Homo sapiens: one gene and its partners. The protein of the gene in region 3 purifies or fractionates together with the protein of the main gene of each other region. This does not show direct contact. Each region holds a gene or a part of one and is shown on either strand. Other genes may lie near its edges.

Region 1 (2,699 bases), on a different chromosome or scaffold from region 3:
ATTAACCAGTGTTTTTACAAAAGTAATGCAGTTTTGGACTGATGATATTACACTGTATTTGTGGTAAAGTACTAGGCACAAGAATATATATATCGATTAGGCATTTTCAGTCTAATCAGTCTCTAAGTTTATCATTTAATTCTTGGCAATATATAATAACTGGTATGCATTTTGGTACTTAAGTCATGAATTGTGAAGAACAAGAAGCAACGTACTATAGTCACAGGGTTTACATCTAACAAACAATTGCAGTGTTGAACAAATCTCGTCTATGAACTTCGTAATTTGTTTTGCTGTTGGTCACTTGGAGTAGATCCTGCAAAGATAAAAGAAAAAGTCAACATAATTTGTTATATGTTGTCAACCCTGGCTAAAGTTCCCTTCTATTAGCATGCATGACAAGCAAATATAAAAATTTTAAAAACAAATAAGGTATATTTCATGTAGGCTGATTTAGACTGAAATTGAAGAATCTATACACTCCCCTAAATAGTCTAAAGAACAGAAGTGTCTACTTGCTGATAAAACAAACAGGTTTCAGATTGAACATTTCTGTAAGTCACAGGTGGAAAGGTAAGAGTTTACGACAACTCCAATATCCAGAGCTATAAAAAGATACATATTTATTACCTGAAAGCTATAAAATATCACCTAAGAGTCCAAACATGTCATTTTCTCCAATGAATTGTGTGAATGGGGGAGGAAAGGGGGAAGGGAGGAGACTGGCACTGTCCCAAAACTAATGGGTTCTATAGAACTTAGAGATCTGAAAAGCTGGTAAAATGTTAAGGGCCCAAAAAGGGTAGGGGGTAAATAAGGTACTTATTTCCCTAAGTCTTATCCTATTCTTGTGGGTTTTATAATGCTAAGCAGGATATACTCCTTTGCAAGGTGTACTTCATCTCCAGTGAAGAAAAATCAGGCACTGACCTAATACAAAATTTTAATCCTCCATTAAACTTAAACAAAAAATATATTTATGTACTAAATATGTGAAATGTAATATCTTATAAGCAGAGACGGACAAAATGCCATAGTTATTTTTCAAAAGAAATGGCGTTAAAACAAACAAACAAAAAACGCTGCCTCTATAACAAAAAATAAAATAAAAATAAAAATGGATAATAAAAACATGCCACAGCTACTATGTAAGATGAAGTTTGCTCAAGTTAAATATAAGTTAAACAGACTATGGGATATATAATGGAAATGAAAGGCTATATGAAATAGACTAAAAGGTTGAAGCATATTACGGAATAACAAAAAGTACTGTAATCCTGACACTATGAGACAGCAACTCATCAGGCTGTATCATAGAATTATTCATATTTAATACTATGCTTACCAAAATGGTAATACAATAATTATTTAATTTCCTAAGACTTAACCATTCTGGGCACCACAAATAACATCAGTTACGCCTCCACTGAAAAGTATGAAGTTTGTAAGTACAAGGAGTAGGTGGTGGGCACAAAAAATCTCCATTAGTGATGCAGAAGATTCACTTCATTAAATACCAGAGTAACAGTTCATAAAAAATAAATAAAACCTATTTCCTATGACAGATCAGGAGTTGCTAGGCTGCAGGGGCTGGGTGTCTAAGACTTAAAAAAAAAATAAAAACAAAAACAGTTAAATAACTTGTCAATCCAACAGTCAAAAGAATCCGTATTGGAAAGATATGACATACTTTGTATCTAACGGGATGTAAAACCAAATCTTCCATACTAAAAACATGTTTCAGGCTGGGCGCGGTGGCTCATGCCTGTAATCCCAGCACTTTGGGAGGCCGAGGCGGGCGGATCACAAGGTCAGGAGATTGGGACCATCCTGGCTAACATGGTGAAACCCCATCTCTACTAAAAATACAAAAAATCAGCCAGGCGTGGTGGCAGGCGCCTGTAATCCCAGCTACTCGGGAGGCTGAGGCAGGAGAATGGCGGGAACCCAGGAGGCGGAGCTTGCAGTGAGCCGAGATCACGCCACTGCACTCCAGCCTGGGTGACAGAGCGAGACTCTGTCTCAAAAAAAAAAAAAAAGTTTCATTTAAAAATTTTAAATTTTAGATCGTTATGACAAATACAACATGACCTAAAATATTCAAAACAAAATATAGCTTAATATGAAGACAAACATCCTTGCCTAAAGGCAAGTAAACCATAAGAAAGCCATATAATAAAACATATGGTCTAAAATCAAATCAACTCTAGGTATAAAAACTTTATTATTCTGAAATTGGCCATGCGGGTTAAAACTTTAGAAACATTTGGTATAATAAAGCGAATCTCAGCAAAATTTTCTGTTTTTTCACAAGTTTAAAGCAAAATAAAGTACATTATCTTAGGCATAGACCATTACAAAAGTCTCAGTGACATTTTCCAAACATCTAACCTTGATTTGATTCTTCCGTATTCATGCTTTCTCCATCTGCAGTCTCTAACATTTCTTCATCTTCATCATCATCATGTAGGTCTTTTGAAATTAATTGTCTGGCTAGTTTGATATTGAGTCCTTCATTGTAGTGAAGCTTCCTTTTCATTTCAAATTGTCGCTTTTTTTCTATAAGATGCAAAATGTAAACTTAGGAAGTTTGAGCTCAAGGATTGGCCCATGCCTGTTTTATAAATAAAATTTTATTGAAACAGTGATGCTCATTTGTTTTTGTCATGCTTAAGGCTGCTTTTGTGTTCAATGGCAGA
Region 2 (3,500 bases), on a different chromosome or scaffold from region 3:
GGTAGATCAGAGGTGAGAAGAGAACCCTGTGAGATGAAGCTGTCTAGTATAGATGGAAAGGCCTTCCTGGAAGAAGTACAGTTATCATTTGCCTGCTCTTAGTTGTAGGCTGATCTGCATTCTTTTTTAAAAATTTTTTTGAGACAAAGTCTCGCTCTGTTGCCCAGGTTGGAGTGCAGTGGTGTGATCTCGGCTCACTGCAACCTCTACCTTCTGGGTTCCAGTGATTCTCATACCCCAGCCTCCCAAGTAGCTTGAACTACAGGTGTGCACCACCATGCCCGGATAATTTTTGTATTTTTAGTAGAGATGGGGTTTTGCCATGTTACCCAGGCTGGTCTCGAACTCCTGGCCTCAAGCAATCCACCCACCTCGGCCTCCCAAAGTGCTGGGATTACAGGCATGAGGCATTGCACCCGGCCTTCATGCTTGTCTGTTCTTTGGTAAGTATTGCTCTGTGGCTGTGTTGTTTGTCTTCAATAAGCTGCTTGGGAGCAGGGGTTGTGTTTGGGTCAATATTCTCCCTTCATCCCCATCAGTATCTAAGTTGCCCAGGCTCTTAGCATCCTAACTCCTTCCTCTGTGGTTGAGCAGAGACACTTGTCTCAGGCTCTGTTGAACACAGAGCCAGATGACTAACCTGCTTCCTTTGATCTCATCCTAGATCAGTGTGCGTGTGACCACCATGGATGCAGAGCTGGAGTTTGCCATCCAGCCCAACACCACCGGGAAGCAGCTATTTGACCAGGTAAGGCGGAGACTCCTTAGCCTCCTCTCCTTCTCTGAATAGCTTCCACCACAATGCCAACAATCCATGACTTTTGCCTCTTGTCAAAGAATCTCTCTTCCTGTTCACTCCAAGATAGATCAAAATGAAGGCTGATTCCAGACTTAATATGAAAGGAGGCAAAGTTAAACTTTGGCAGCCTGCACCCTATGGTCCTGATTAATTTTATCTTTGGTCCTGAATAAGGGAGAAAAGAAAATGGTGTATATTCTATGCTAGATGCTTTAAAAATCTTAGCATATGGAGCCTTCCTTTTAACTCTGAAACATGTAAGTGATGTCTTCTCCATTTTAATGATGAGGCTCAGAAGTTAAATAACTTAATTGCACCCAAATGATATTTGGCTGGGATTTGCACTCCACATTGTTGCCACTGCACCACACTGCCTCTGTCCCATGTTTTTGCTTCCTAGTAGAAGGAAACTAACTTACTCTCCCTGAGGTAGTAAGCTCTATGCACATTTCTCTCAAAAGAATGTTGGGACTTAGGACAACATGGGAGTTGATGGATGCAGTAGGAGGCTGCTTCATCTCCTACAGGCATGCCATGAAGATAATTGCTTACTCGCCATAGTGAAGAGGTCATTCCCATCTCCAACCCAAGGGGTGTCCCTTCATTGTGAATCATTATTGTCAGAAAGGATGTACTGTATACTATAATAAACAGATGGCAGCTACAGACATTTTTAGCATTCAAGGGAATGTGCCGTCTGTGGCCAGACTTCTAGGAGCAAAAATGAGGCTCCCATTTCCAGAGGCTGGGACCTCACCAGACAGGCCATTATCCTATTTCTCCACCAGACTCCGATGAAGTGGAGGTCTGAGTTATTGTCCAGGATGTTAGGCTGCATATCACCCTGATGGATTCTCCAGGCCCTCTTGCTTCCCTTTCTTCCTTGCTCTCTGTGTCCTTCTACCATATGAGAACTTCCCCAGGGTTGGAGAGAGGAAGAAAAAAAGAAGGAGGTAGTGTTCAAATAAGCTAATTCTATTCCTGTGAATACTTCTGACTGGTGAGAGAAAAGACAAGAGTAGAATGGAGACAGGGGTAGGAGAGGGCTAGAAATTTGAGGACAGCTTGGGTACACCTTCTGAGTTCTTATTACATAGAGTGGGAAAATTATTGTCTGTGGCTAATACAGATGAGAGTTAACATTTATCCAGGACTCAGTGTATGCTAAGTATTATGATAAGCATTTGACTATCACAAAGCTCTGTGAGTGCATGAATTAGTATGGGCATGTTTTACAGATGAGGACACAAAATCCTCATTTTCCTAGTTAGACCCTGGGAAAATTATTGAACTCTCTGGGTTGGTATCTTCATCCCCTCCCCCCGAGAAATATCTAATACTTACCTCACAGGATTTTTGTGAGTGTGTTATGTTTTGTATCTTACCTGTTACTCAAAAATCTGATTATAGTGGCATATAAGGATGTCCAATCCAAAAAGATAAATTCGAAATAGGTGAGAAAGATAAGAAAACACAAATAGGAAAGAAAGTGTTAGCTGGAAGAAAGCATCCAGCATATGGTAGAGAAGTAATAAATGATAGCTCCCTTTCCAATACCATTGTGCTTCTTGTATTATTAATTGAGCTGGAGTTGACGTGATGTGGTGGCTCATGTCTGTAATCCTAACACTGAGATGGGAGGATTGCTTGAGCCCAGGGGCTCGAGACCAGCCTGGGTAACACAGCGAGACCCTGTCTCTACAAAAAATTTAAAAATTAGCATGGCATGGTGGTGCACACCTATAGTCCCAGCTACTCAGGAGATTGTGCCAGGAGGGTTGCTCAAGCCCAGGAGTTCAAGGTTACAGTGAGCTATGATCACGCCACTGTACTCCAGCCTAGGTGACAGAGCAAGACTCTGTCTCTAAAAAAAAAAAAAAAAAGTAAAGAAAAATAATCTAGAATTGGGAGAATTGGGAGATGGGCTTAATGATCCTCAGAATATCTAACTTCAGATTTAGGTGGAACTTACTTCTCTGGAGTTTGTTTTGTGTTTGTTTTACTTTGAATGGCAAAGTGTAATCATTGATACTTAATTGGTGAAAATACAAATTAGTCTGAGGAATATTTAAATACAAGTTTACTACAATTAAAGTGATGTGCTTACATTCACATAGCTCACAAGTGATTATGGTGCTAGTCTGGAATGACTAAATGCATTCTAATTATAATTGTGCTTTGCATTCTCTCTTCACATGGAGGTTATATTGGAGAACTTTTAAAGGGACAGCCTAGTGAAGTCAAAAGGGCCTGGATAGAAAGTCATGAATCTTGGGCTGTAGGGTTGGCTCTATCACTAATTCGCTGTGATACAAACGTTTCCCTTATTTGGGCCTCAGTTTCTCATCTGTACAATGCCTAACTTGTTTCTCAAATCTGGTTATCTCTCAGAAAATTTATCTCTGGCATTTATTTGTGCATTCCATCTCTCTTTCTCTCCCATTTCTGTTCCTAGTATTGGGATTTCAGACAATCCTTTTCTGTAAAAAGGAGAGAAATGCCTCACCTGAGTATGATCAGCTGCTGGCATATGTGAGGAGGTAGGGCTAGCTGGCAGGGGGATCATCTCTTCCTTGACAGGCTTTTTACTGTCTCTAAGACAAAAGGGAGGAAGTGTCCATAGAACACATAGGCTTTTGGGCCCTTTGCTTTAGACAGCAGTATCATTCTGGGTAGCAGCTATTAGAGAGGGAAGCGGTTA
Region 3 (3,500 bases):
TACTCCATGGATTGTGATCATAGCTAAATATTTAGCACAGTGGTATAGTGAAGTATGTCCTTTTTTAAAAAAAATTTCATATGCAACTGTATTTTCAGTTTCTTACAAAGGATTTCCTTGATGGGGAATGGGAGATTAATTTTTTTTCCTTATGGAGTTGTATGGTAGGGCAAATGGATGCTTTTAAATTTAAATCTAGCAGTTCCTCTTTTGATCCTGATAATTTTAATTAAAATGAAATTCAATAAATGTCATTATGAAACTGGCAGGGGGAATGAATGTAGATAAATGGTCACAGTGTCTGTTTTCTATCAAGTGAGCCTCTGATTTCACAGAGAAATATATTTGTTGATGAAATCTTATGTAGAGAATGGGGGACACTTTAGACTTTCAATTTCTGTATTTTGAATTTTAATAACTAGATTTTTAAAATTTTTAACCAATTTAGACAAATGGACGAATACCTAAAACGTATAAAGAAAAAGAGGACTTCAGAGATTTGATTAGACAAGGTAATATGGGATATGATTAAATACTGTATAAAGCTTGAAAAGCAAATTGCTAGAGGCAGGTACTTATTGGATTTCTGTTAACACCTTTGTCAGATGATAGCATCATGAGCTTTTATTTTCCTTCTGGAGAAGTTAAGAAGCCACGCCTTGTATAGTTTTAAGGACTAATGATAAGCCGTATTTCTTCTTAAGATTTAATATTCTGCAGGATCTGACAAGGTTATTTTTATAATGGGGGAACAGAAGAGTGAAAAGAAAAGGGCTGTTTGCTAACAATTTCCCATTACAATAGGAATTCTAAAAAATGAAAATGGGGCTCCAGAAGATGAAGAGAATTTTGAAGAAGCTATTAAAAATGTGAACACAGCACTAAATACAACTCAGGTAATGAAAGAGTTGCTGAGGGATTCACATGAACAAGATGTTTTCTAGAGTCCTTGGCTATTAAATGGTTGACTATAATGATTTAAGTTAATATTTTCTAAATGTATAGTTAGAAATAAATACAGGGCCGGGCATGCTGGCTCATCCCAGCACTTTGGGAGGCTGAGGCGGGTGGATCACCTGAGGTCAGGAGTTCGAGACCAGCCTGGCCAACATAGTGAAACCGCGTCTCTACTAAAAATACAAAAATTAGCTGGGCATGGTGAACATACCTGTAATCCCAGCTATTCGGGAGGCTGAGGCAGGAGAATCACTTGAACCCAGGAGGCAGAGGTTATAGTGAGCCAAGATTACACCACTGCACTCCAGCCTGGGCAACAGAGTAAGACTCCGCCTCAGATGCCTTTGGTTTTGTTATGGCTTAGTTGTTGAGGTCTGACCATTGAAGTTTTTGGGGAGCTTTGGAATAACACCTGGTAGTTTAAGTTAGAATTTTCTTGTAACTTAAAACAGCAAATATGCTGCCTTTCAAGTTAGGAAGGCACGTAAGATATTATTACCAACTTTTTAGAGACAACAAGGCAGTGTTGCTGAGTGATTAAAAGTGTGCTGGCTGGGGCCAGGCGCGGTGGCTCACACCTGTAATCCCAACACTTTTGGGAGGCCGAGGAGGGCAGATCACATGAAGTCAGGAGTCCAAGACGAGCCTGGCCAACATGGTGAAACCCCATCTCTATTAAAAATACAAAAAATTAGCTGGGCATGGTGGTGGGCACCTGTAATCCCAGCTGCTTGGGAGGCTGAGGCAGGAGAACCGCTTGAACCTGGGAGGTGGAGATTGCAGTGAGCTGAGATCTCATCAGTGTACTCCAGCCTGGGCAACAAGAGCGAGACTCTGTCTCAAAAAAAAAAAAAAAAGTGTTTGCTGGCCAGGTGTGGTGGCTCACACCTGTAATCCCAACACTTTGGGAGGCCAGGGCAGAAAGATTGCTTGAGCCCAGTTCAAGACCAGCCTGGACAACGTAGGGAGATCTTGTCTCTACAAAAAATTTAAAAATTAGATGGGTGTGGTGGCATGCACCTGTAGTCTCAGCTACTCTGGAGCCTAAGGTAGTGGGAGGATCGCTTGAGCCTGGGAGGTTGAGGCTGCAGTGAGCCATGATTGTGCCACTGCACTGCAGCCTGGGCAATGATATGAGACCCTGTGTCCAAAAAATAAATGTGCTTTGTGAATCACTTTTCTGGGGTGATGAACATTTTCTGTTTTAATTGGGGTTATGGTTAAAAATATGTATATATAGTTATCAAAATGCATTGAATTGGACATTTGAAATCTCTGTATTTCACTGAATATAAAACCACAGTTGAAAAGAAAAGATTCTAATAGTTGGGGGGCAGTAAGCTAAATAAACAGATAAAAATGCACCAGGTGCTGTGAACAAAATTACAGCAGAACAAAGGGTCAGAGAGCATGCTGGGGACAAGGGAATCCGGGGTTGAGAGACAATTGTACATAGGGAGCCAGGGAGACTTTCCAAAAGACATTTAAGCAGAAGCCTGAGTGAAGTGACACGCAGAGGTCTGGTGGAAGAGCTTTTCAGTTGGAGGGAGCACATGTGCAAAGGCCCAGAAGTGGGATGAAGCTTGACTTTTGTTCAAGCATCAGTAAGCAAGTCAGTGTGATTGGAGTGAAGTGTAAAAGGGGGAAAAGTGGTAGGAAGGATTTGAGTTTGGAGAGGCAGAAAGGGCCAGATCATAAAGGCCTTGCAGGCTATTTAAGCATTTCAGTCAGGGAAGTGGATTGAGCTGCTTTGTATTCTAAAAGACCATTCTGGCTTTCATGAGGAGAACACAATTGAGGGGACTGGGAGTGGAAGCAGAGAGAGCAGTTAGGAGGTCCCACTGAGACATTTCTTTTTTCCACCCATCAGTAGAATCCAAGCCTATGATTTGTGTGTGTGTGTGTGTGTATTTTTTTTTTTTTTTTTGAGACAGGGTCTCACATTGGTGCCCAGGGTAGAATGCAGTGACACAATCACTGCTCACTGCAGCCTTGACCTCCTGGGCTCAAGTGATCCCCCCACCTCAGCCTCCCAAGTAGCTGGGACCACAGGCACGTGCCACCACGCGCAGCTAATTTACTTTTATGTTTTCTATAGACGGGGTCTTCCTGTTTTGTTCAGGTTGGTCTCAAACTCCTGGGCTCAAATGACCCTCTCACCTTGGCCTCCTGAATGCTGGGATTATAGATATGAGCCATTGTGCTCAGCTTTATACTCTTGATTAACGTATGAAGATCTTGCTAGCAATAAAATTACTTTATGGTTTTAGTTTTTTTCAGAGTGGTTGTCTCAACGGTCACTAATTAGGGTGCAAGGGTTTCAGATTTTTGACAAGATGGAAAATCATGATATACTGCGAGTCTATAATCTGTTTTGTCTTCAGATGTAACTATATAAAATAATTTACTGGGGCCCCTTCTTTACCCCATTTATGGTATAAGAGAATAGGTATTAAATGGTAGCAACAGTGGGCCGGAGAGGTCTTTCTTCCATTCTTTCCCCATCAAATCTTCATATGGTACTGATTCTAAATAAAATTATA
Region 4 (3,500 bases), on a different chromosome or scaffold from region 3:
AGCTCCTTGGCTTCCTTCTTCTGGTTTCGCGCCTCATACTCCAACCTGAGAGGGCAGGGTAAGTCTAGCAGAGAGCGCCCATGAGGCGGCTCCGAGGGGGAGGGCACGGTAAGTCTAGCGGAGAGCGCCCATGAGGCGGCTCCGAGGTGCCCCCACCCAACTGCACCTGTTGGTGATGATCCGCTGGACGATGAGGTCTGTGGTGAGGTTGCTGCCACTGTCAATCTGACGGAAGATGCCCCTTCTCTTGGGCTCCTGGGGGTCCAGAGAGGAGGAGCGGGATGAAGGTCCCTGCTGACCTCCCCAAGACCCATCTGATGCCCTGCCCCAGAGGGAGACCAGCGCCCAGGGTCCCATGGGAGTGGTGCAGTCGGAGCAGCTGCGCCACCATGCCCGTTTCCCAGGCAGGCACAGTGAGTCATTAAATGGCTGGGAGGTGCCAATGGCAACCCCTGTGCCCAGCAAGGGCCAGCATGACCCACCTGGTATGGGTCGGAGCCATCCCTGTCAGGGATAATTTCTGTCTTGCCGTGACACACCAGGTCCACCTGGAGAAGGAGTGGGGTCAGGAGCCCTCCCCGGGGAGGCAGCGGCCGTCGCCACCCACAGCCCAGCACAGGCCCCGGGGGTTGGGAGAGCTGACCCTGCCCTTTCCTCAGCCCAGGTACCTCCTGGGCCCCGCCTAGGAGCCCACAGCCAGCCTGCATTCCCAGCCCATGCAGGAACAGAGGTGAACAGAGGGAACGAGGTGAGCCCATGCGGAGCCTCACCTTGAAGTGACTTAGGAGCTCTGCTGTGACCGCGTACGGGGCTCCAATCACCACTTCTGACACGTACTGTGGGGACAGTGGGGGCAGAAAGACTTGCTCGGTCCCTGCTACTGGTAAGCCAGGGCCACAGGGTGGTGAGAGACGGCTCAGACATGGGGCGGGGCTGCCAGTGAGTAGCAGGGATGGGCTGGGCAGGCTGGGGACCCCTGGGGCTCCTCCATGAGACAAGAAGGAACAGCATCTGGAGACCTGACCACCCCTCCTCATGCCTCAACAAACAGGTATGGGCAGGTGCCACAGAACTCGGGGTGCTGGGTGCAGCTCTGCCAGTGACCCAAGCCCCCCTGCCCTGGCTCAGGGAGGCCCTTAGTAGGGGGGATGTTGTGGGAATGTCTCCCCATCCTTGGGCTGGCTCCTGGCCCCCACTCACCCGGCAGGCCAGCACGCTCAGAGTCCGTTCATGCAGATTCATGATGGGGTAGTTCTTCCCCTTGTAGTGATTGACCTCCTGCGGCCAGAGTGCGGCTAGCTCAGCCCGGAGACTTTTTGGGGGGACAGGGTGTGCCCCTCCCGGCTGTCCCTCATGGGAAGAAGTCGGGGAGGTTGCTCGCCCTTGTGGGGATGCCCCAGACAGGACAGCCCTGGACCCCAGAAGCCTACGATCACCCCCCAGGGTCTCCTGTGACTTCACCTGGGGCCCCTTCCCAGAGACCACCTGCACCTAACAGCAACGCTTAGGGCCCCTCGAGGGCCCATCAGCTGCCCAGGGGCCCAGGGAGCAAGAAGGCAGTGACCTGGTCAAAGTGTAAGCCCGCGATGATGTAGGGCCTCTCTGCCAGCCTGTGCACCTTCTCCAGGAAGTCCACATGCCCGATGTCTGCACCCAGGTTAAGAAGCAGTCGGGATGGGGATGACAGGGAGCAGCTCCCTGACAGCTCATGCCCAAGGGCCTCCCCGCCATCCTCCCTGCTGACAGCTGCTCCCCTGCAAACCAGCCAGCCCAGTCTGGGGGCCCCAAGGAGTCAAGTGAGGCCCCCGGGTCCCACCCCATGTGGCACATGTAGGGGAGCAGCAGAGGCCCAGAGGATACGGAACAGGTCGAAGGCACCAGCCACATAGATGACTGTCTCCCCTGGCTGGGGCTCCTTCCCAGAAGCAAACTGGATGATCTTCTGAGATGTCTGCAGGAACTGGGATACCCCGGTCCAGGGGTTCCGCCCACCAGGGCACTGCAAGCCAAGAGAGGGAGCAGGTTGGCGGGGGAGGCCTCCCAGGTGCTGCCCTCACCAGGTCACCAAACCCTCAGCTGTCACCTGCCAGCAATCCCATTTCCAGCCAGTCATCTCGGGCAGGGGACACACTGCCAGGCCAGGTGGCAGGTGGGACTGTGGCGCCACCCCACAACCACAGCAGGCACCGCAGCAGACACCACTTCAGCCCAGCAAGCGACCACCAGGAGGAGGCAAGGAGCCCTGTGGCAGGTGCACACAGCCCTTGGGAGGGACCTGGTACCCTGAGACCACTGTCTGGTCACCTGGGAGCAGCCTTCTGAGGAAAGTATGTCCCCGGCGGGTATCGGGTGAGGGGGCTACAATGGGAGAGAGGGCCAGGCCACTTGGTTAGAGGCCACCTGTCCACAGGCAAATCCTTGCTCCTCCAAGCAGTGGCTGCCGTGACCGGCCAGCCGGTGCCACCACCCGCCTGCCCTCCCTCCCAGCATCCACCAGTGAGCCAAACCTGGCAGTCAGTGCCTGGTCAGTGCCAGGGACAGAGGGAGGAGGGTGAGGCTCTGGGCTGGCCTTTCCCCAAGGGATGGCTGGGACAGGTGGCCGGGGGAGCCCCCTGCAGCTGCGTGCTCAGCTCTCCCTGCACAGCCGCACTCACCTTGCCAAAACTGTCTGCATACTCCCGGTACTCAGAGGACATCTCCTGCACAGAAGGTCAGAGCAGGGCTGAGGGGCCTGCCCTCCCGGCGTGGCCACCCCAGAACCGGCTGGGGATGGGGAGCAGTGGGCAGGAGGACCCTGAGAGGGCAGGGAGGTGCCCCTCCTTTCCCCTGGAGACCTCGACCCAGGGGCCTCGGGGATTCCGCCGCCGACTCACCTGGCTGCTGTGATGGGCTTTGGTTACCAGCAGCATGCGGCCCACGAGGTCTGTGGTGGACACCCCTTGCGTGCGCTTGCATTCTCTGGGGGACACAGTGGGAGTGGGGTCTCATCCTGGGACACTCGCAAGGCTCTGCCTCCTGCTACCACCACTAGGGACACTAGCAGCCCTGCTGTGGCAGAACCCACGGCTGCCCCAAAGACTGAGGGTCCCCTTCCTGTGCAAGGCCATAACAGAAAACCTGGGTTGGGAACATGGGGAAGGCCTCCACGCTTTTATTGACTGAAGGGAGTGGCAGGAGCACAGAAAAGGACCCTTGCTGGGGCCCAGGTGTGCAATGCCAGGGAGAGGATGGGCACTGGGGTAGCAGCTCTGCTTCCTGCCTCCCTCACACCCACGTCCTGCCCGCTGAGCATCTGCAGCTGAGTGAATTCTCAGCTGCAGCATCTCATGCGGGAGCCACTGGCCTCATGTCCCTGACGTCTGGTAATTCAGATATAGTGCCAGCTCCCCAGCAGTGCCAGCCACGTCCCCCGAGCTCAACAGCTGCCACCTCACAAAGCTGTGCCTTTGGAGCCCTGGGGCCATGGGTCTGCAGCACCAAATGGCAAGGGCCTCCAGGCC

The links.
Region 1: the proteins of NAE1 (region 3) and PPP1R2 fractionate together in Homo sapiens (co-fractionation; one large-scale study listed by BioGRID). This does not show direct contact.
Region 2: the proteins of NAE1 (region 3) and MSN fractionate together in Homo sapiens (co-fractionation; one large-scale study listed by BioGRID). This does not show direct contact.
Region 4: the proteins of NAE1 (region 3) and PCYT2 fractionate together in Homo sapiens (co-fractionation; one large-scale study listed by BioGRID). This does not show direct contact.

Annotation. Positions count from the first base shown.
Region 1 is NC_000003.12:195,516,627-195,519,325, forward strand, and holds part of PPP1R2 (protein phosphatase inhibitor 2), read right to left. Parts: intron 2,560-2,699; coding exon 2,392-2,559; intron 317-2,391; coding exon 270-316; 3' UTR 1-269. UniProt on the Homo sapiens protein: Inhibitor of protein-phosphatase 1.
Region 2 is NC_000023.11:65,716,154-65,719,653, forward strand, and holds part of MSN (moesin), read left to right. Parts: intron 1-664; coding exon 665-748; intron 749-3,500. UniProt on the Homo sapiens protein: Ezrin-radixin-moesin (ERM) family protein that connects the actin cytoskeleton to the plasma membrane and thereby regulates the structure and function of specific domains of the cell cortex.
Region 3 is NC_000016.10:66,813,977-66,817,476, reverse strand, and holds part of NAE1 (NEDD8-activating enzyme E1 regulatory subunit), read left to right. Parts: coding exon 1-52; intron 53-448; coding exon 449-512; intron 513-804; coding exon 805-896; intron 897-3,500. UniProt on the Homo sapiens protein: Regulatory subunit of the dimeric UBA3-NAE1 E1 enzyme. E1 activates NEDD8 by first adenylating its C-terminal glycine residue with ATP, thereafter linking this residue to the side chain of the catalytic cysteine, yielding a NEDD8-UBA3 thioester and free AMP.
Region 4 is NC_000017.11:81,904,900-81,908,399, forward strand, and holds part of PCYT2 (ethanolamine-phosphate cytidylyltransferase), read right to left. Parts: intron 2,959-3,500; coding exon 2,874-2,958; intron 2,700-2,873; coding exon 2,655-2,699; intron 2,359-2,654; coding exon of another isoform or gene 2,305-2,358; intron 2,000-2,304; coding exon 1,861-1,999; intron 1,648-1,860; coding exon 1,565-1,647; intron 1,279-1,564; coding exon 1,201-1,278; intron 837-1,200; coding exon 771-836; intron 549-770; coding exon 483-548; intron 256-482; coding exon 167-255; intron 46-166; coding exon 1-45. UniProt on the Homo sapiens protein: Ethanolamine-phosphate cytidylyltransferase that catalyzes the second step in the synthesis of phosphatidylethanolamine (PE) from ethanolamine via the CDP-ethanolamine pathway.